Homo sapiens: one gene and its partners. The protein of the gene in region 2 purifies or fractionates together with the protein of the main gene of each other region. This does not show direct contact. Each region holds a gene or a part of one and is shown on either strand. Other genes may lie near its edges. The genes, in order: IRAK1, PELI3 and MAP3K7.

Region 1 (7,570 bases), on a different chromosome or scaffold from region 2:
GGGTCCGAGTGTGTTTCATCCTTCCCACTCTGTCGAGCCTGGGGGCTGGAGCGGAGACGGGAGGCCTGGCCTGTCTCGGAACCTGTGAGCTGCACCAGGTAGAACGCCAGGGACCCCAGAATCATGTGCGTCAGTCCAAGGGGTCCCCTCCAGGAGTAGTGAAGACTCCAGAAATGTCCCTTTCTTCTCCCCCATCCTACGAGTAATTGCATTTGCTTTTGTAATTCTTAATGAGCAATATCTGCTAGAGAGTTTAGCTGTAACAGTTCTTTTTGATCATCTTTTTTTAATAATTAGAAACACCAAAAAAATCCAGAAACTTGTTCTTCCAAAGCAGAGAGCATTATAATCACCAGGGCCAAAAGCTTCCCTCCCTGCTGTCATTGCTTCTTCTGAGGCCTGAATCCAAAAGAAAAACAGCCATAGGCCCTTTCAGTGGCCGGGCTACCCGTGAGCCCTTCGGAGGACCAGGGCTGGGGCAGCCTCTGGGCCCACATCCGGGGCCAGCTCCGGCGTGTGTTCAGTGTTAGCAGTGGGTCATGATGCTCTTTCCCACCCAGCCTGGGATAGGGGCAGAGGAGGCGAGGAGGCCGTTGCCGCTGATGTTTGGCCGTGAACAGGTGGGTGTCTGCGTGCGTCCACGTGCGTGTTTTCTGACTGACATGAAATCGACGCCCGAGTTAGCCTCACCCGGTGACCTCTAGCCCTGCCCGGATGGAGCGGGGCCCACCCGGTTCAGTGTTTCTGGGGAGCTGGACAGTGGAGTGCAAAAGGCTTGCAGAACTTGAAGCCTGCTCCTTCCCTTGCTACCACGGCCTCCTTTCCGTTTGATTTGTCACTGCTTCAATCAATAACAGCCGCTCCAGAGTCAGTAGTCAATGAATATATGACCAAATATCACCAGGACTGTTACTCAATGTGTGCCGAGCCCTTGCCCATGCTGGGCTCCCGTGTATCTGGACACTGTAACGTGTGCTGTGTTTGCTCCCCTTCCCCTTCCTTCTTTGCCCTTTACTTGTCTTTCTGGGGTTTTTCTGTTTGGGTTTGGTTTGGTTTTTATTTCTCCTTTTGTGTTCCAAACATGAGGTTCTCTCTACTGGTCCTCTTAACTGTGGTGTTGAGGCTTATATTTGTGTAATTTTTGGTGGGTGAAAGGAATTTTGCTAAGTAAATCTCTTCTGTGTTTGAACTGAAGTCTGTATTGTAACTATGTTTAAAGTAATTGTTCCAGAGACAAATATTTCTAGACACTTTTTCTTTACAAACAAAAGCATTCGGAGGGAGGGGGATGGTGACTGAGATGAGAGGGGAGAGCTGAACAGATGACCCCTGCCCAGATCAGCCAGAAGCCACCCAAAGCAGTGGAGCCCAGGAGTCCCACTCCAAGCCAGCAAGCCGAATAGCTGATGTGTTGCCACTTTCCAAGTCACTGCAAAACCAGGTTTTGTTCCGCCCAGTGGATTCTTGTTTTGCTTCCCCTCCCCCCGAGATTATTACCACCATCCCGTGCTTTTAAGGAAAGGCAAGATTGATGTTTCCTTGAGGGGAGCCAGGAGGGGATGTGTGTGTGCAGAGCTGAAGAGCTGGGGAGAATGGGGCTGGGCCCACCCAAGCAGGAGGCTGGGACGCTCTGCTGTGGGCACAGGTCAGGCTAATGTTGGCAGATGCAGCTCTTCCTGGACAGGCCAGGTGGTGGGCATTCTCTCTCCAAGGTGTGCCCCGTGGGCATTACTGTTTAAGACACTTCCGTCACATCCCACCCCATCCTCCAGGGCTCAACACTGTGACATCTCTATTCCCCACCCTCCCCTTCCCAGGGCAATAAAATGACCATGGAGGGGGCTTGCACTCTCTTGGCTGTCACCCGATCGCCAGCAAAACTTAGATGTGAGAAAACCCCTTCCCATTCCATGGCGAAAACATCTCCTTAGAAAAGCCATTACCCTCATTAGGCATGGTTTTGGGCTCCCAAAACACCTGACAGCCCCTCCCTCCTCTGAGAGGCGGAGAGTGCTGACTGTAGTGACCATTGCATGCCGGGTGCAGCATCTGGAAGAGCTAGGCAGGGTGTCTGCCCCCTCCTGAGTTGAAGTCATGCTCCCCTGTGCCAGCCCAGAGGCCGAGAGCTATGGACAGCATTGCCAGTAACACAGGCCACCCTGTGCAGAAGGGAGCTGGCTCCAGCCTGGAAACCTGTCTGAGGTTGGGAGAGGTGCACTTGGGGCACAGGGAGAGGCCGGGACACACTTAGCTGGAGATGTCTCTAAAAGCCCTGTATCGTATTCACCTTCAGTTTTTGTGTTTTGGGACAATTACTTTAGAAAATAAGTAGGTCGTTTTAAAAACAAAAATTATTGATTGCTTTTTTGTAGTGTTCAGAAAAAAGGTTCTTTGTGTATAGCCAAATGACTGAAAGCACTGATATATTTAAAAACAAAAGGCAATTTATTAAGGAAATTTGTACCATTTCAGTAAACCTGTCTGAATGTACCTGTATACGTTTCAAAAACACCCCCCCCCCACTGAATCCCTGTAACCTATTTATTATATAAAGAGTTTGCCTTATAAATTTACATAAAAATGTCCGTTTGTGTCTTTTGTTGTAAAAATCAAGTGATTTTTTCATAAGGTTCTTTTACTATTGGAAAAGATGGGCAGCACGCAGTTTTATTTTATTTTTGTAAGTTTTTTAATACATGTGAAAGCAAAGAATACTCAGCATGCCTTTCTAAGTGACGCGTTTGCACCTTTTGTTGGGAAGTACTGTATCCTGTGCTGTTAGCATTCTCGATAAATCTCTCTGTGAAAGTGACTCAAGGTCTGGGCTTTCATTATAAGACAGAAGTCCCCCTCCAGCTCACATGACAGCATGGTGCTGCGTTTCCTCATTGGATCTGGCTGTCCCTGGACACAGGTAGCTGCCTTCAGGCCTGCCACGAGCGGCCAAGGGAAGCCTCCTCCATATGCTGGCCTCGCTGGCCCCTCAGCTTCTTCCAAGCCAGTGCTCTCCAGGCACACTGCTCCAGCGTGTGACGGGAAGGGCCTGGCATGAGTCAGCCTGCAGCACAACCTCCCTGCTCCAGACCCGTATGGTAGGGGCACCCCCTAGGTCTGGATGTGCTGTGGTGCTTTTGGACACCCCCACCCCCGCAGGCTGTGGCTCCTCCTGTGTCTCATTCTGGCCAGGACCCTCACGTGCCCTCTGTTGACTGCTAACGTGGTTCTCTGACCAGGCAAGGGCAGGCTGAGGGGTTTGCCCAAAGGGGGCCCCCTTGTTACTGGCTTCCTTGGCTCTCAGGAGCAGCCTCACCAGGTTGGTAAGGGGCTGGAGGAGACAACTGCTCAAAGGAGTCCAGCTTCACATGCACATGCTAGAAGGTACCCTCGGAAGGCCTGGCCTTCAAAGGTAGATCCCAGGGTTGAAAAGTCAACTTGTATGCATTGAGCATCTCGTATGCCAGCCCTGTTCCGTGAGCTGATGGGCCTTTGTGTGTAAGTAGGACCAAGTGCCCCCGTGGAGGTTAGCATGGGTGTGCAGTCATTTCAGATACTTGAGTTGGTACATCTCAGTAAAGTCTGTCCCGTGAGAAGCCATGGGTTTCATGGTATGGTTGGCATCTTCCTTGGGAGTGGCCACAGTGGTGGTGGCTTCAGGAAAGAGACTCCAACAGGGGCCAGCTGTGGGCCTTGGGCACTTCTCGTTTCTAGGAAAAGTCCTAAGTCTGTAGGGCTAGGGGTGGGGAACCCCTTCGCTGTCAGGATCAAGAGGGCAAGGGGAACTGTCGCTGGAGGAGACATCCAGCTGGAGAAACAAAAGAGTAAGTCTGCGTTGCTGCTTGTGGGGTCTTCCCCATCTCAGGGCGGGGACCGGGGGTGGCGGTCCAGACAAGTAATCAAGGACGATGCCCAGGAGGGGACAGGTACGGGGTGGCAGGAGCTCTGCCGGCGGGCTCAGGAAGCCTTCACCACAGCTGCCTGAGCTCACCCTTGCCAAATGAGGGCTGGGGCAGCAGCAACGCATACACTCACGGCTGTGGCGGGCAGCGTTCTCGGCATATTTCAGGACACCTAAGGAGACTGAATGGCTCAAGGCTGCTGCCGTGTGCAGGGGGCTAGACGTGGGGCGGGCAGGCAGGGCTCCTGGTAACAGCCCTGCAGGCCGCAGTGGAGAGCAGGGTTCCGGCAGGGCCGCCCAGGAGCTTTCGGAAGGCCCGGCCCCGGCCCCTTTCCGAGCAGCCCGGGCCTCCGCCCTGCCCTCTGTCCCCAACGCCGGGAGCCGCCGTTCGTCCTCCAGAGCCCCGCCCGGGCGAGCCCGGGAGGCCGATCGCCGCTCGCGGAACCCGCCGGGACCCGGGCCCTCCCCGGCGCGGGGCGCCCCCGTGTGACCCAGCGCGCGGCCGCGGCGCGCAAGATGGCGGCGGGCCCGGGCACCGCCCCTTCCGCCCCGCCGGGCGTCGCACGAGGCCGGCTCGAAGGGGAAGTGAGTCAGTGTCCGCGGACCCGGCCGGCCCAGGCCCGCGCCCGCCGCGGCCCTGAGAGGCCCCGGCAGGTCCCGGCCCGGCGGCGGCAGCCATGGCCGGGGGGCCGGGCCCGGGGGAGCCCGCAGCCCCCGGCGCCCAGCACTTCTTGTACGAGGTGCCGCCCTGGGTCATGTGCCGCTTCTACAAAGTGATGGACGCCCTGGAGCCCGCCGACTGGTGCCAGTTCGGTGGGTGGCGGCGGGCTGCCGGGGGGCGGGAGGCGCGCGGGCTCCTGGCGCCGACGCCTGACGCCCCCCGCCCCGCAGCCGCCCTGATCGTGCGCGACCAGACCGAGCTGCGGCTGTGCGAGCGCTCCGGGCAGCGCACGGCCAGCGTCCTGTGGCCCTGGATCAACCGCAACGCCCGTGTGGCCGACCTCGTGCACATCCTCACGCACCTGCAGCTGCTCCGTGCGCGGGACATCATCACAGCCTGTGAGCGCGGGACTCCGGGCACCCCACGGCTGGGAGGCCGGCGGGCCCCACGGGGCTCCCCCACCCGGGCCTCAACCTTCCTTTCCTTCCTTGGCGTCCCAGGGCACCCTCCCGCCCCGCTTCCGTCCCCAGGCACCACTGCCCCGAGGCCCAGCAGCATCCCTGCACCCGCCGAGGCCGAGGCCTGGAGCCCCCGGAAGTTGCCATCCTCAGCCTCCACCTTCCTCTCCCCAGGTAAGAGGGCCCGGTTGTTAGGCTCGGTGGACCCAAAGAAGAGCCCACCTTGACCACGGCCACGGCTGTAGACCCTGCTGCTGGTCTCTGCCTGCCTCTCACTGGTGTCTTTATGAAGCTTTTCCAGGCTCCCAGACCCATTCAGGGCCTGAGCTCGGCCTGGTCCCAAGCCCTGCTTCCCTGTGGCCTCCACCGCCATCTCCAGCCCCTTCTTCTACCAAGGTAGGTGTCCCCTGCCCCCCAGGGAAGATTCGAGACAAGGAGGAAGGAATTCAGCCTTTGATGTAGCGCAGAGCCCCAGTCAGCCAAGCTGGGTCAGCTGGGAGGCAGCTGTGGTGGGGAGAGCCTGGAGCCTTGGGCAGAAGGGAAGAGACAGGGACCCCACCTGATCCAGGCTCTCTTCCCACAGCCAGGCCCAGAGAGCTCAGTGTCCCTCCTGCAGGGAGCCCGCCCCTTTCCGTTTTGCTGGCCCCTCTGTGAGATTTCCCGGGGCACCCACAACTTCTCGGAGGAGCTCAAGATCGGGGAGGGTGGCTTTGGGTGCGTGTACCGGGCGGTGATGAGGAACACGGTGTATGCTGTGAAGAGGCTGAAGGAGGTGAGTGTCGCACCCTGGCAGGGACCCTGGAAGGCCATCAGATAACCCTCACCACTTCTCCAGCCTTTCCCCCTCGCTTCCCCACACAACTCCTTCAGCCCTCATTCTGGCGTAGGGTCCCTGGCCCCTTGGTGGTTCTGGGCCTCGGGTAGGTGGCACTGGTGGCCCGAAGGCCTTCGCTTCGAGAGCCTCACGCTGCCCGTCTTCCCTGCCCCTTCCCCCACCGCACCCTGGGGGCTGCAGAACGCTGACCTGGAGTGGACTGCAGTGAAGCAGAGCTTCCTGACCGAGGTGGAGCAGCTGTCCAGGTGAGGCCAGAGGGGGAGCCACACCAGGTCCCGTGGGGCTTCAGACCGCACACCACAGGACCTGGCTCCCTTGGGCACCTGAGGCCTGGCAGGCCCGGGCGAGCTGAGGCCCCAGCCAGGGCTGCCCACCCAGTCTGGCCTGATGGAAAGTGCTCCCCTTTTTCAAACAGGTTTCGTCACCCAAACATTGTGGACTTTGCTGGCTACTGTGCTCAGAACGGCTTCTACTGCCTGGTGTACGGCTTCCTGCCCAACGGCTCCCTGGAGGACCGTCTCCACTGCCAGGTAGGCTCACCTGGCCCGGCACGCTTCCCAGGACCCAAAGCACTCCTGACACCTGGCTGGAGCCGGGCGCGGGGCCTAGGGCTTTCAGCCTGTGTGAGTGGGTCCTGCCAGCAGGCCAGGCCTGCACTTCCAGCTCCCCAGCAGCACCCGGCTCAGGATTTGGCCCACGGTGGGGTCAATTTTTTTTTTTTTTTTTTTTTTTTTTTTTTTGAGGTGGAGTCTTGCTCTGTCATCCAGGCTGGAGTGCAGTGGTGTGATCTCAGCTCACCACAACCTCCACCTCCCGGGTTCAGGCGATCCTCCTGCCGCAGCCTCCCGAGTAGCTGGGACTACAGGCATGCACCACCACACCTGCCTAATTTTTGTATTTTTAGTAGAGATGAGGTTTTGCCACATTGGCCAGGCTAGTCTCGAACTCCTGACCCCAGGTGGTCTGCGCGCCTCAGCCTCCCAAAGTGCTGGGATTACAGGCGTGAGCCACCACGCCTGGCCCGACCCAATGTTTTCTATAGAGCTCTTTCCCAGGCCTCTCCCCTTTGCAAGCAGCGTAGCTGGAGGGTCTCATCAGCAAGCCCCGGAGGCGAGGGGGTCTGGGGCTACCAGCTGGACCACCTACAGCTGAGGGAGGGCCCCCTTGCCTCCTCCTGCATGCTGCGTTTGGGGAGAGCGGGAAGAATGCCTTCAAGGACTTCCCGACCACCAGGGACAAAGGGATGAGCCCTGGGAGCCGAAGCCCAGCAGATTCTATTGAACGTGTCCCCAGCCATTGCTTAAGAAGTGCAGGTCACGGAGACTTTGCTCCTCGTTTTCCAGAAGGGGGAAACTGAGGCCTAGAGAGTGAAGTGGCTGTTCCAGGCTGCACGGTGACAGGTAGAAGGATGGTTGGGATCAAGGAACGGCCATCCAGCAACCTCCCCTGTCCCCCTTTGCCACCCCAGACCCAGGCCTGCCCACCTCTCTCCTGGCCTCAGCGACTGGACATCCTTCTGGGTACAGCCCGGGCAATTCAGTTTCTACATCAGGACAGCCCCAGCCTCATCCATGGAGACATCAAGAGGTGAGGAGGGGCCCTTGAGAACTGCCGGGGCAGGGCCTGCAGCAAGGGGGGCCCCGCGTCCTATCAATGTGGGGATCAGGCATGGCCTGGGACCTCAACACCCCGGCATCGCACAGGTGTGGGAACGGGCCAAG
Region 2 (7,324 bases):
CCCTCACTTTTCCATTACCAGTGAGGCCTGCCACAGCCTGATTTGTACTCTGATCCTGGCACGCATGAAGCCGTGTTGCCATTTGTTAACAGTCTGTCCTCCACTAGACTGTGAACTCCACCAGGGGGGGAACCAGGTCTGATTGCCTCTGTGTCCCCAGATACCACTTAGCACAGAGTCGAGCCCATAGTGGCTATCAGCAAGTGCTAGGCCCAGCCTGCCACCCACCCACCACTCACTTGGGGGCTGGAGGCATTGCACGCATGCGGGGCATGTGGGACTTGTGGGGGCAGCTGAGCAGCGAGGTTTATAGAGGAACCCAGGGCGGCAGCAGGAAGGATGAAGGATGAGTGTCTGAAACTGGGTTGGCAGGCTCAGGGCATAGCCAGCCTAAGCTGGGGGTCAAAGGCCCCTGGCCCCTTCACTCCCCCAGGGGCACACAGTGTCGGCGGCACGATGTGGGATGCCCCAGGAAGGGCAAGGCCATGGGGCTGGGCTTTCCTCCATCGACCCAGGACAGAGCTGGTGCTGAAGGCCCCATCAGCATGACTGGGGTGGAGATCTTGGGGACCTCCTTGGGGGGCCACAGTTGGGGGGAAGGGCACAGCCCATCCAACATGTCCATCTGGTGTGGCTGTGCCAGCAGGGAGTGTCCCACATGCAGAGCTCCCTCTGGGCTGCAGGAGGTGGGGACCTGGGTGGGCAGGTGGGCACAGCAGCAGGGGGCCCCAGGGAGCCTAATCCAGCGGGCCCTGGAAAATGAGGCGGACGCAGCCATGCTCGCCGGTAAGCCAGGCCCCGCAAAAGGGGCAGGCGGCATGGAAAGCATGGGTGCCGTGGGGCAGTGGTGTCTGGGCCCAGTAGCGGGCAGTCTTCTCAGAGCAGACGTGGCCGCAAGGTGCAAAGGCATGGCTAGGCGGCCCAGGGTCCAGGCAGAGGCCGGCCTCCTGGCCAAGCCATAGAGGCACATAAGGCCCCACAAGGCGGCAGAGAGGACATTCGCGCTCCTGGGGGCCCCGCTCCCGCCGGCAGCCCCAGCCGTGGTAGCCATGGACGTGCCCGCAGCGGACGTAGACCCAGGGCTGCTGTTTGTCGGGCGCTGTGCGGCCACGGGCTGGGCTGGGGAAGGCCAGAGTGCTGAGGCCCACGGGGCACTGGGGCCGCGCTGCATTTGCCTCCTGCCGCTGGGCCTCCAGTTGCTTCAGTGTGGGAGCCCGCAGCAGCCCCGCCGGTGTGCGCCACAGCAGTGTGGCCCCACACAGGTCGATGAGAGAGCCGTCCTGCAGCACGTTGGACTCGTTTTCCACCTGCCAGAGGCAGTAGAAGGGCCTTACTGCCCAAGAGGCCCCTGCTGAGCCGCGGGTCCATCCCACAGAGCCTCCCTGGAGAGGACACCCTGGCGGGCAGGGCAGGCAGGGCAGAGGAGCAAGGCAGGCTAGGAGGCCAAGTGGGCAGGCAGGTGCATCCCAGGCACATGCTGATCCCCCCTCCCAACGGGGCATGGGCCTTGGTTTCCCCATCTGTCTAATCAGGAAGTCTGACCCAGACAGGGTTTTTCTAAAATAAGATGTTTTCTGAAGTGCCCTCCTCCTGACAGAGGCAGGAAAGGCCTCTAATGAGGAATGCTGGGTACTTAGCTCAAAGCTAACGGGGAATGCTGGGTACTTAGCCCAAAGCAGCTGTCCCAGTAGTTACAGTTAAAAGCAAAAACTCAGGAGCTAGGCTGCCCAGGCTGAATTCTGGCCTCACCGTTGACTAACTGTGTCCCTTGTCGAGTAACTTAACCTCTCTCCATCTCAGTTTCCTCATCCTCAAGATGGACTGCACCTTCTGGCATCTCAAGTGGTTCTTGTGAAGATTAAATGAATCCATCAGGCCGGGTGCGGTGGCTCACGCCTGTAATCCCAGCACTTTGGGAGGCCGAGACGAGCGCATCACCTGAGGTCAGGAGTTCCAGACCAGCCTGGCCAACAAGGTGAAACCCCATCTCTACTAAAAATACAAAAAGTTAGCCAGGTGTGGTGGCTCATGCTTGTAGTCCCAGCTACGTGGGAGGCTGAGGCAGGCGAATCACTTGAACCCAGGAGGCGGAGGTTGCAGTGAGCCAAGATTGTGCCATTGCACTCCAGCCTGGGGGATAGAGTGAGACTCCATCTCAAAAAAAATAAATAAATAAATAAATAAATGGATCAATCAGTTTAAAAACTTAGAACAGTGCGTGGCAAATAGTGCTCAAGAAGAGTAGGCTTGTGAAACATTCACATGCATTGTTTTAACAAACAATGCTTCCCCAGACCTCCCCACAGAGTTGACGCTCTGGAAAGAAAAGCCAGGCTTTTCTCTGAGGTTTTGCATCTCCTTGGCCAATGTGCTCATGCCAGAGAAGAGCAGTGCATGGCCAGTTTGAGGAGCACGGCCATGTGACCTTGGACAGCCCCTGCCTCTCTCTAGGACTCACTCCCGGTCCCTAACCTCAGCTCTCTGATCTGTACCACAAGGAGCTGCCACTAACACCTGTGTCAGAACTACTGTAAGGACCCTTTCCTCCTGCGAGAGGAGAACAGTGCTAAACCTGTCTGAACGTGATAGACATGCTACAAACTGCCAACCCTTTAGGCTATAAACTGCTCACACATGGGCCAAGTGTCACTCTCATAAGAAGGTGTGATTTTTTTTAAGCTGCCAGCAGCCTTGAAGCCACCTGGGACTGCACAGTATGTCTGTGTGTGCCTTGATCGCATCACCCCCTGGACCTCCAGTGGTATGCATGCTATGCTTGGGGACCCTGGTCTGTCTGCCTGTCTGTGGGACAAGTGGCTCATGCTAAGAACCCCCTGGGCCTGGGATTCCCTGATATGGAGCCTGTTGGGGCTCCCTGGGGCAGAAGGACTGGAGATCATCTCCTGGCTTGGGCAGGGGGATGGGCAGCTTGTGAGGGCCTGGCAAGGATAGGGGTGGGGAATGGAGCGGGCCACCTACCAGCTTGCCCCGCTGCTGGGCTGAGCGGCTGTCCCGCAATGTGTACACATTCCCACAGACCGAGATCTCCCGCCAGACACCCGGGGCTGAGTCCTCGGAGAAGCCGCCTGCCGGGTGCATCACCAGGACTCCATTGGTGGTCAGTCCATCCATCAGGCCATCTGGGGTCCGCCATTTGGCCGCTCGCTCCTGGGACCACATGAGGGATCAGATCACATCCCCCAGGGGCCCCCCAGCAGGCCATGTGCCAGAGGCACTGCCCCCGCTACCTTCAAGTTCAGAGGCGGCCCAGAGAGGACTGGCATTGAAGCTGCATGACTTGAGCGTCTCTCTGGGCCTCACTTTGCTCATCAGTTAGGTGGGGTTGCTAACTGCCAGGACCACCATTTGGATTACTGTGGGCTGGTTCATCACCTCAAGATGCTGCACCTCCCAAGCCTACCCCTTGCCTCACAGATGAAGAGTTGGTCCCTTCCTGGGGCTCACTCACTCCAAGGAAGATGTTGCTAGAGGCATCGAAGCCAGCGGCATAGATGCGGGCAGTATAGGGTGGCCGGCGGTCACAGAGGATGCGGCAGGCATAGCGGGAGATGGTGCTCTGGGCAGAAGGGCCCTCGGCAGCCCCTCCTCCAGGGGACGTGTCTGTTACCACGAAGTCAATCATGTTCTCTGTGGAGCGGCCAATCTGTGAGGACAGGGAGAGCAAGCAGGGACTGTATGTACATAGGGGACTCTCATGGGCCTTCCCTCCCAGAGTACCAGCAGCTGCTCTGTATGCAAGGTCACCAAAAAAGGAGGCTGCCAGGCCCTGGAGAAGGGGCAGCACCAACTCCATAGGCCCTCTAGGCTCCCAGGTGGGGTCTCCAAGTCCAAGAAGCCGTGGCCTGGAGCAGCTTCTCCTTCTCTGTTGCCCCCACAGCACTAGGGATCGCCCCATTCAATAAATACAAGTTGATTTGCTGATATAATTATAAGAGGGTGCTCAAATGTTAGCAGCAGATAGTGACTTCTAAGTAACTATTTGCTATATGCCAGCCACCATGCTAAACATTTTATATGCAATGCCTAAGTTAATCTTCCCGTGGGGTGGGTACTATTATGGGCCTCATTTTACAGATGAGTAAACCAAGGCCCAGAGAACTTAAGTGATGCTTCCCCAAAGTCACCCAGTGGTAAGTGATGGAGCCAAAATCTGAACCCAGGCACTAGGCCTCTCACACCTGAACTCCTGAGCTGTGTGACCTCCCACAGTCTAGGAGTCTTGAATTTGATCCTTGATATAGCCACTGACTTGCTGTGTGACTCTGCAGTCAACAGCCCACACCGGGACATCCTGCTTCCTCGTCTGGAGAGAAGCAGCTTTCCCATGGCCTCCCAACCCGTAGCCTCACCTGAAATGCTTGCAGAGCCTAGAGGCCTGGTGGCCAGGAGGTGTGTGGAGAGGCCTGAGCATACCTGGAACATGTCTGTGTCGCTATCATGTGTATACTCCACTATGACCGAGTGGCTCCGGGACAGTGTATACGAGATGCTGTGCTGACCACGGTTACTCAGTGCCTGGTGGGGAGAAAAAAGTCACTTGCCAGGGTGTGCAGCCATGATAAGTGTATGCCTTGAGCAAGCACCTGGAGCTCAAGGCCCAGCAGCCACTCCCTGGGAAGGGGGCAGCTCCATCCTTCTCAGAGGGTGGACAGTGCAGCAGATGTTTCACATGATTTAAGCCCTACAGTCACCCTAAGGATGGGGTTATCAGGCTGGGTGCGGTGGCTCACGCCTGTAATCCCAGCATTTTGGGAGGCTGAGGTGGGCGGATCACTTGAGGTCAGGAGTTCAAGACTGGCCTGGCCAACATAGTGAAATCCCGTCTCTACTAAAAATACAAAAAAAAAAAAAAAAAAATTAGCTGGGTGTGGTGGTACACGCCTGTAGTCCCAGCTACTCGGGAGGCTGAGGCAGGAGAATGGCTTGAACCCGGGAGGCAGAGCTTGCAGTGAGCTGAGATCGCACCACTGTACTCCAGCCTGGGTGACAGAACGAGATTCCGTTTCAAAAATAAAAAGAATGGGGTTATTGTTCCATTTTAGAGTTGAAGAAACTGCAGGTCAGAGAGAAACTGGCCTAAAGGCACACAGCTGGAAATATCAGAGGCTGAATTCTAACCCAAATCCTCTAAAGTCAAAGGTTTTTCCTTTATCATTGCAGTATGACTGTCACCTCCCACTCTCTGAACCTTGGCTGCCTCTAAAATGGTGCAGCTCATTTCCACCCATTTCCATTTCCATTGGATGGAAATAAGCAGCACCATCTTAGAGGCAGCCAAGGTTCAGAGAGGTCCAGTGGTTAAGGCAACATTTTGCAAACTGTAAAGAACTGCGCACACTGCAAAGGATTTTTCATCACCATTCTCGGATGGCCCAATAAGCAGTGAGTGATGACACAAAGTGGGCTCCCCTGTTAAGGTGTGGGGGCTGTGGGCAGGTAGGACCTGGAAGGCCGAAGACCTGGGCCTTGGGCAGGGAGGGCAGGACCTCAGGTCTATGGGTCAGTTGCTTGCCTTGGAGACGAGCGGCGTGGAGATGTGGTGCATGACGTCTGGCTTCACCCCGTTGGCGTGCGACCGGCGGCTCAGTGCCAGGCGGCTTCGCCGGCGGCCCTTGTCCCCACTTGCCAGACAACCATTGTAGCTGTAGATGTCGGGGGTTAAGAAGAAGGGGTTGCAAGAGGAGAGAGAGAAAGAGAGAAAGTGAACCCCTGATGAGACTTGGAGGAAACTGCCAACTTCTAGGCAGATCCTACCTTAATAAACAAGCTCTACAAGCACCTGAAACTAGAAGACCCTACAATAACAAATTGGTACCTTGGGGAGTGGGAGGGGGGTGTCAGAGCAGTTTCAAAAGCACTTTCATTCAGTTAACCAAGTATTTCCTGGACACTTGAGCCATGCCTGGATGGGTGCTGTGCACTGGGGCGGTAGAGGTGATGCACCACGGGTCAGTTGTGGGCCCTCAGTGGAGGGGTTCCTCAGCTTCTCCAGGAACCTAGGTGCCACCTGCCACACCCAGGCACAAGCCAAGGATGCCATAAGCCTAGAGGAAGAAAAGGGAATTCTCGCCCTAGGATCAGGTTTCTGGGAGAGGGAACACCTCTACTGGGTTTTGAAGAACTAGAAAGGGTTCACCTGTAGTAAGCTGTCACTTATCACACCACTACTCAAAACCAAAATGGAAGGAAAAAATGACACACAATGCCAGTACCTCCATATGTCCATACATGTCAAATTTCCACCTGCCTTTCCAGCTCTTGTCTGGAGGGCATGGCTGTGAGAGGCACAGAGGAGGTGAGGCATAGCTCTCATCGCTGCCATGGGCTGCTGCCTCTGTGTTCCTGGCCTTCATGTTATCAATCACCTAATGGAATCTGTGCAGTGGCCTGCCAGGCAAGTGGCTTTCTGCCCATCTTACAAATGAGAGAAATCAAGGCTCAGGGAGGTAATGTGACTTGCCTCTGGCTAGTAGGTGAAAATGTCCAGATTTGAGCCCAGTCTCTCTGACTCCAGAAGCCCCTCTAGATGGAGGCTCACCCTAAGCAAAGGGCCCAAGGCTGGCAGGGTCTGATGAGATCAGGGAATGGTGGCTTTGGTGGTGAAGTATGTGGGGGAGATGACACTGGTGGGAGGGCTCTGAACTCCAGGCTGAGGACATTATTCAACAACCAGTGGGGTGCCAGGAAGGTCTGGGAACAGGAAGTGACAGGACAAAGAGCTGCCAAATACAGACAAGGCCACTTGAATCAGAATCTTCTAGTGAGTTTGTTAAAATCCAGATGAGGCCGGGCGCAGTGGCTCACACCTGTAATCCCAGCACTTTGGGAGACCGAGGCAGGCAGATCACTTGAGGTCAGGAGTTCAAGACCAGCCTGGCCAACATAATAAAACCCTGTCTCTACTGAAAATACAAAAACTAGCCAGGCATGCTGGTGGGTGCCTGTAATCCCAGCTACTCAGGAGGCTGAGGCAGGAAAATCACTTGAACCCAGGAGGTGGAGGTTGCAGTGAACTGATATCGTGCCACTGTACTCCAGCCTGGGTGACAGAGCAAGACTCTGTCTCAAAAAAAAAAAAACAAAAAAAAAAAACAGATTCCCTGGTCCCACCCACTGCGACTGTGATTCTGTAGGCTTGGAGAGGGCCTGTCAATGTGTATTTTCAGTGCCCTCCAGCCAGCTCTGATATGCAGCCAGTGTGGACTCTGCTCCCCAAGGGGGCTGACAGGAGGGTCCATACCCATGGGTCTGCAGCCTCCCACATTAGTGGCCTTGCCTTGGGCTGGAAAGCCAGTCCTGCCTT
Region 3 (7,324 bases), on a different chromosome or scaffold from region 2:
AAGGCTGGAGGGACAGGCAGAGGTTGGATCCTGAACGGCTCTACCTACCATAAAAAGGAGTTTGAATTTCAGTCTAAGTGCAATGTGAAGGAACTGAAAAAATTCAAGGAAGTAAGGATGGTATGTGACATTAAACAAAATCATTATAGCTCTTAAAGAAAGGATTGTAGGGAAGCTAGGATATGTAAATAGAGACCCATTAGGAAGCCATTACAGCAGTCCAAACAAGCAACAATAGCTACGAGGGCAAGGTCAATGGTAGTGCAGAAACTGGGCAGATCTGGGAAATGTTTTAGAAGTAGAGTCAATAGGGTTTGCTGATGCTCTGCATCCAGGCAGGACAGGTGTAGAGGAAAAGAGCTGAATCAAGGAAAACACCTAGACTGGACAACAGTTTACTGAGGGATAAGAATGATGCAGATTTTTTTTTAATAACTCAGAGTTTGGTTTTAGTCATATGAAGTTTAAGATGCCTACTGGATATCCAAGAGGAGATATCAAGTAAGAAGGTAGAAACGTGAGTGAGAGGATCTATGGAGAAGTCAGACAAAGAGATACAAACTTGGGAGTCATTAGCATGTAGTCAGTTTTTCTAGTCAATCAGTTGGAAGAGGTAACCAAAAATAATATGGAGATAGTGGAGTAGAGGAACTGAGCTTTGAAGCAGTTCAACATTTAGATCACAAGAGAGGAGAAGGAATGGGCAAGGAACAGGAAGGAACAGTCAATATGGTAGCAGGCAAACTAGGAGAGAGTCAGAGAAGCCAAAAGAAAAAGACGTTCCAGAAGGAAAGCAGATATAAGGACAGTGAAAGCATATGCCAGTGGCTCTAAAAGTGTGGTCTCCGGTTCAGCAGTATCAACATCACCTGGATATTTATTAGAAATATAAATTCTCAGGGTGCAACCCAGAATTATAGAGTCTGACGGTAAGGCCAAGCAATCCATGTTTTACCAAGCCCTCCAGGTAGTTTCAATGTTTGAAAATCACTGCATTCAAGGCTAATCCATTAACAACAGATAATAAGGCAAGATATTTCAGTGGAAGCCATCACACAGACCAGAGAGCTCTCCCTTGCTGTTTATATTATTTGTGGAAGCTTTCCACAGCACCCATATGTCATCTTGGGCAGGAGAAAGGGAAAAGGAAAATCCTTATGGGGGAAGACTGAATTTTGAAATAACCGAATTAATCTTGAAATTTCTGAGTACAAAGATACATAAAAGAGGTAAGTATTACATGGAAATTATCCTTGTTGTGGCAAGATTAAATGCTTTTCTCTACTGAGTTGAAAAGAGGAATGACTCATAATTAAACAGTAGTTTATAGAAAAATAGTTACATTTCTTAACTTTTAAAAACAAGTAAGAAATACCGGCAGGAGGACAGGAGTTTGTTTTGTTTTGTTTTGTTTGTTTTTTTGAGACAGGGTCTCACTCTGTTGCCCATGCTGGAGTGCAGTGGCGCGATCTCAGCTCACTGCAGCCTCTGCCTCTCTGGCTGAAGTGATTCTCCTGCCTCAGCCACCCCAAAGTAGCTGGGATTACAGGCTTGTGCCACCACACCCAGCTAATTTTTGTATTTTTAGTAGAGTCGGGGTTTTGCCATCTTGTCCAGGCTGGTCTTGAACTCCTGAGCTCAGGCGATCTGCCTGGGTTGGCCTTCCAAAGTGCTGGGATTACAGGCGTGAACCACTGCACCTGGCCAGAGACAGGAGTTTTGTGCTTTAAACAAAAAAGAGTATAAGCATATATCCATAAGAGTAGAAGATAGAATAATCAGATGATATATACAATGGATAAAGTTGTTTCCTGGTATATTTTGCTCTCCTTCCCCCCATTCTGATATTAGCTCTCTAAGGGAGAAGTCTGAATGGGAATTAGAGGTGGCAGAAGGTGCTACGTAGCATAAAAAAAGCTTCCCAGGGCATTCCAATATACTTCTCATTCCTTTCTTCAAGAAATAACATTTTAAAGAAATGCAATTTTATTATCTGTATAACGATAATGCAACCTTATATTTAACAATATATTACAACTTGTAAAGCTCTTTCTTACAAATATGATGGAGTTTGAGTGTCACCATAAACCCATGAATATATAGGATTTTTTATTCCTACCTTAGAGAGAAGAAAACCAAGGCTCCAAGAACTGAAGTTACCTATTCAAGGATCATGTAATTAGTAAATCAGAGTCAGCTTTCAGGTATGTTTCATGGTGCCAACAAAACAGAGGCCTGCCAGGATTTGGTCCAGTGCCTGGTACAGAGAAAAATGCTACTCAAAGGCAGCAAGTATGATAACTAACAACAATTAACTTTTCAAAAGATTATATTCGAATCAGATTTTAGCTGTTTAGAAGGGGGTTTTAAAAAGCCCTAATCTCCTTTAAGAAAAGAGTGAAGTTGGGTTAATAGAAGGCTTGTGTATAAAGGGCTTATGGCAGTCTCCAAAGATGGCTGTCAACAATCCCTTCTCTGCCTGTCTCTGCTTAAGAGTTCTATTTTAGCCTCCTTCACTGATTCTTCCTTCCTCTGTCCAAACCTTAGATGTTGCTACTTTCCAGGGTTCTGTCCTTGGCCCTTTTGTTTCTGAATCTGTTCTCTAATCTCATGGATTCATACTCTCAAATCTCTCCCATCCAGGTTTTTTGCCCAAGCTCAAGATATATTTAAAACTGCCTTTGAGACTAAGGGGTCCTACAGGCTTATTAAGTTCAATATGTCAAATACTGACTCCATTATCAGTCCCTCACTTGTGTATATTGTAGTTTACTTGACCTTAGTTAAGTAGATTTACAGATATTATCTCATTTTAATTAAGTCAATTCTCACATTTTAGAAAGGTTTTATTTAGAAAGTACTTATTGCAACTTGAGCCATGATCAAATGATAGTATGAAACCTTTCATCTCCCATTGTTTAAAAATACCGACTTCATACATACACACTGAAAACTGAGTATACAAAATAGAAAGTGTTTTGTTTTACCAGTGGGAGACAGACAAACAAAAAATTGTGGACACCACCGCTCCAACAGGAAACGCTGGTTAAGAAAGTTCATTACTGTCTGCACTCCACCTCTCAGGCTATGTAAAACAGCACTCCACTGACTGGGGAAAATCTTACATGTGTATAGATTTTTAAAAAATATATCACATATTTCTAAGAAAATGTTTCAAATGCAAATATCTTGGTAACAAATTTCCTTATTGTATTAATCAAGAACATAAAATCGTGGAGAAGATCAGATGTAGAATAATAGTATGTCTGGACTGCAAAGGCCAAGCCTAAAAACACATAAGGAGATTATGTACATTATTAGATAAGGAATGAGCCAATGTTACAAACTACAGAAAGCAAATTTGATATTTTTCTTGACATATGGTAGATCAACAGAAAAAAAGTGGCATAGATGGCCACTCTTGAGACATACTGGCAACTGAGGTAAACAATGAAAAAACTTAATATTCAAGTTGTAAACCACTGAAAGAAGGCCACTTTTTATTTACTACCAAATTTCTAGTCCAAGTTCACAAATCAAACGTGCTTTCTGAACCGTATTCTTTTCTGAATAATACAGTTTATTTGACACACTGTAATTAACAATTAGGTTTTTTGTTTTTTAAAATTTTTTATAGAGACAGGGTCTCACTATGTTGCCCAGACTCGTCTCAAACTCCTGGCCTCATACAATCTCCCACCTTGGCCTCCCAAAGTGTTGGGATTACAGGTGTGAGCCACCGTACCTAGCCCAACATTATTTTAAATGACTGTTTTTTCCCCAAAGATGAATTTTCATCAAGAGTAAAAAAGAGAACATATCAAGTTACAAGTATTTCCCCATCACACACATCCAACTAAAATGGTGACATACAAATAAATATTTCAGATATTCTTCATAATCCTTCATTTGTAAAAAACAGAGGAATGCAAAAAGGACTTTGGTTTTAAAAGGGAGGTCAATTTGGAAATATTTCCTTCTAAATTTATGAATGTTTTCTAAATCAAAATGTTTTTGATTAATTACTTTATGATAAGCATTTCTCCCCCTATGGTTGAAACCTCTTTGTTTTGGGTCTACAACTTTAGTCTCATACAATTAAGTAGATTTAAATTTAATTTCTTAATAAAAAATACAGAAGAATATGAGATGGTATATAGAACATTTCCATGCAACTACTATTGAAAGGCACAAAAACAAAAATCAGGTTTTGTGTGTTTGTGTGTTATTTTTAAAGAAATTCCTTTAAAAATTAATTTCTTTATGATGTAAGATGACTCCATTCCTTCAGACAAGTCATGTTAAAGAAAACAACCAAACACACACCTAACCTAAATGGAAAAGGATGTATGCCTTTGTGCTCTTAATTTATTATTAAATAATTCTTTTAATTGTTCTGAATTCATGTTATTTTTAGTTCAGTGACTACAGCTGTCAGTTTCATTTGGCCCTGTTCTATGAACTATCTGAATGGACCCCTGGTGATGCTGGCATTGTTCTGGCTGGAAATGCGGAACAAGACAGAACAAGCATAGATCATACATTTATTAGTTAGGACTTGGAGCCTCCAACTATGTTAGAACTTCAATATCTATTAATAAACTGTGGCAGAGTGGAACTGCCATCTGCTGACAAGATGGATTTGATAACATAAAAGTAAAGCTTTGATTATTCAAACTTTCTTCTGAATGTTTCATGCAGTCTTTTAATACCTGCCACAGTACATCTCACCCATTTTCTAGGCTTTTATTTCAAATAATATGCTCATGCTATCTTTTAAGCTACACGTGTACAATGCAAAAATTATCTCTGTAGCTACCTCTTAACTATAGTAATTCCAGATTTCTACTGAAATCAGTGGTCACTTTCACATGAAAGAATGTATTGATTATTTTAGGTATCCATAATTAAATAGTGACTAACAAATCTATGTACTCAGTTTGTTTAGACCACTATAAATTAGGTTTTTCTCTAATACCAATTCCCCATATATTTATAACTTAAACCTACAAAGTACATATAACTGTTTAAGTTCTATCTATATCTCCTCTTTGTAGCATATTTTAGCTTTTAAAACAAAACTTTTGTGTGTCTCCTTAACAAAGCTGAAGAATATATACAAATGCTGCAGTAATTTTATGTGTCCAATACTATAGCTTTGTTCCTACACTATAGTTGAGGTCAGCATTATGGGTCTCCCTTTTCAAAAGCAACCATTGTAAATAGTGTCTTTTTAGCACTCTGTAGTAAAGACCTACCATACGTGGCTTACTCATAGCATCTGGCCCTTTACAGCATTTTTTATCCCTGCTAAACAAAAGTATCTGCTAACTATAATAGAGTCGACATTAAAACAAGACTCGGATCTCATTTCTAACGTGTTGCCTTAGCCAAATCGCATAACTCAGCTCCTATTTTATCACATGTAATATAAGAGAACAAGATGGGCATTTAATTCTTATGATTATGCTGTGATACTTTCATGTACTCATTGAACAAATATGTATAGAGAACCTTCTAGGTTCTAGGCATTGGGGTTACAAAAGTGAATAAAGCGCCTTACATTTTGCTGAAGGAGAGACACAATTTCAGTTACTGGTAAGTACCATGAAAGATAATAGAAATGACAAAAGATCTAGGTTGTTCAGGGAATGCTTCTCTAAGGAAGTGTTAATAACATTTGAGGTGGGACTTGACTGGTGAGGAGTCAGTCATCTTAAGTTATGGGGGAACAGCGCTTTAGGCAGAGGAACAACTACAAAGAAAATTCATCTTAGTGACTTTCCCAACCCACGATGGTCACTTTATTCAAAACCTAGTTTTAAACTTGTCCCTACTCAATGGAACCTTCTGTGATTAACTCTATTTTCAAATTATGGCTTAAGTGTTTAATTTACACTATATTCAGTTTTAAATTTGTGGTCTATAGTTAACTGTTCTGTGTTTACTCCAGTCTGATATCATACTAAGTCAGACATTTTAAGGAGGTAATCCTAGGATTCTTCTATCATCTTTTTTTTTTTTTTTTTTTTGAGACAGAGTCTCCCTCTGTTGTCCAGGCTAGGGTGCGGTGGCATGATCTCAGCTCACTGCAACCTCTGCCTCCTGGGTTCAAACGATTCTCATGCCTCAGCCACTCAAGTAGCTGGGATTACAGGCCTGTGCCACCACACCCAGCTAATTTTTGTACTTTCAGTAGTGACGGGGTTTCTCCGTGTTGGCCAGGGTGGTCTTGAACTCCTGGCTTCAAGTGATCTGCCCGCACTGGCCCTCCAAAGTGCTCGGATTACAGGTGTGAGCCACCGCACCAAGCCCTATTTATCTTTTATAGTACCTCAGAGTATTACGCACAGATGAGAATGTTCATTAAATGCTCAGGACCAACTACACTAAAAAGGAAATCAGTATTTTGTTTCCCCTTTCCCATATTAGGTTTGGTTATAGAGTACTTCAGAAAGTACTGAGTGACACTGTAAATCCAGTGGAAAGGGCAACTGACTCACAAGTGAGAAGTCTCATATTCAATTCCCAGCTTTACCATTTACTTAGGCATGCGGCTTCTGGCAAGTCAAACTCTATGACTGCTTGTCAATATCTGTACAATGGGATATCATTTGCCCTGTCAACCCAGGATTAGTTGGTCACCAACTGAATTCTATAGGAGACCATGATCAGTCTTTAAAGAACTGCTAAGCTTACTATAGAAAACAGTTAAATACTGGAAAACATGAATGTGTTTTCATTTTAGAACTGGAAAAGACCTTAAATGATCTTGTTCAGTCAGTTTACATGAGTAACCACAGGCCCAGAAAAATGTGGTGACTTCCTCAAAGTTACAAAAATATATTATGGCAGAATCAGTACAGCATCTAAATTTTCTTTTTCAGTCCAGAACACTTTCCACTATACTACCCTGTGTAACACTTCTTGCAACCCATCCCCTCTTTTATTCCAACATTCTCTACAGCCAGTTCTAGATGGTAAACACTAAATGATGTTTAAAAAGTACCTAGGCAGATTTCTGAGGCTGAGACCTTACCTAATTTGACTGAATTGAATTGAATCTAAGATGTGCCAAACTAATACTACTGAGTTACAATATTAGAAATGCAAGATCAGCTAATGTCTTAGAAATATGTATCTACTAAATGGCTGCATATTTGGCCTGTAGTTGAATTATTATTTTTTTTACAGTTTCTAATTATATTGATATAATACAATTCAATTACATTGAGAAATACATGATTTTCTTAATTTAGAAGGTAATATTCTCATACAATATAAAATATTGGAAGCAACATAAAATAGTTTTTGTTTCTGGTCA

What was found.
Region 1: the proteins of PELI3 (region 2) and IRAK1 purify together in Homo sapiens (affinity purification with western blotting; 7 studies listed by BioGRID and IntAct, with this or other methods). This does not show direct contact.
Region 3: the proteins of PELI3 (region 2) and MAP3K7 purify together in Homo sapiens (affinity purification with western blotting; 3 studies listed by BioGRID and IntAct, with this or other methods). This does not show direct contact.

What each region holds. Positions count from the first base shown.
Region 1 is NC_000023.11:154,016,815-154,024,384, reverse strand, and holds the start of IRAK1 (interleukin-1 receptor-associated kinase 1), read left to right. Parts: upstream 1-4,482; 5' UTR 4,483-4,572; coding exon 4,573-4,708; coding exon of another isoform or gene 4,709-4,786; coding exon 4,787-4,954; intron 4,955-5,056; coding exon 5,057-5,188; intron 5,189-5,306; coding exon 5,307-5,410; intron 5,411-5,597; coding exon 5,598-5,786; intron 5,787-6,029; coding exon 6,030-6,094; intron 6,095-6,264; coding exon 6,265-6,379; intron 6,380-7,317; coding exon 7,318-7,436; intron 7,437-7,570.
Region 2 is NC_000011.10:66,469,581-66,476,904, reverse strand, and holds part of PELI3 (E3 ubiquitin-protein ligase pellino homolog 3), read right to left. Parts: intron 5,664-7,324; coding exon 5,534-5,663; intron 4,537-5,533; coding exon 4,435-4,536; intron 3,665-4,434; coding exon 3,470-3,664; intron 3,416-3,469; exon of another isoform or gene 3,169-3,415; coding exon 2,980-3,168; intron 2,762-2,979; exon of another isoform or gene 2,680-2,761; intron 1,976-2,679; exon of another isoform or gene 1,801-1,975; intron 1,308-1,800; coding exon 738-1,307; 3' UTR 1-737. UniProt on the Homo sapiens protein: E3 ubiquitin ligase catalyzing the covalent attachment of ubiquitin moieties onto substrate proteins. Involved in the TLR and IL-1 signaling pathways via interaction with the complex containing IRAK kinases and TRAF6.
Region 3 is NC_000006.12:90,576,869-90,584,192, forward strand, and holds part of MAP3K7 (mitogen-activated protein kinase kinase kinase 7), read right to left. Parts: intron 1-7,324. UniProt on the Homo sapiens protein: Serine/threonine kinase which acts as an essential component of the MAP kinase signal transduction pathway. Plays an important role in the cascades of cellular responses evoked by changes in the environment.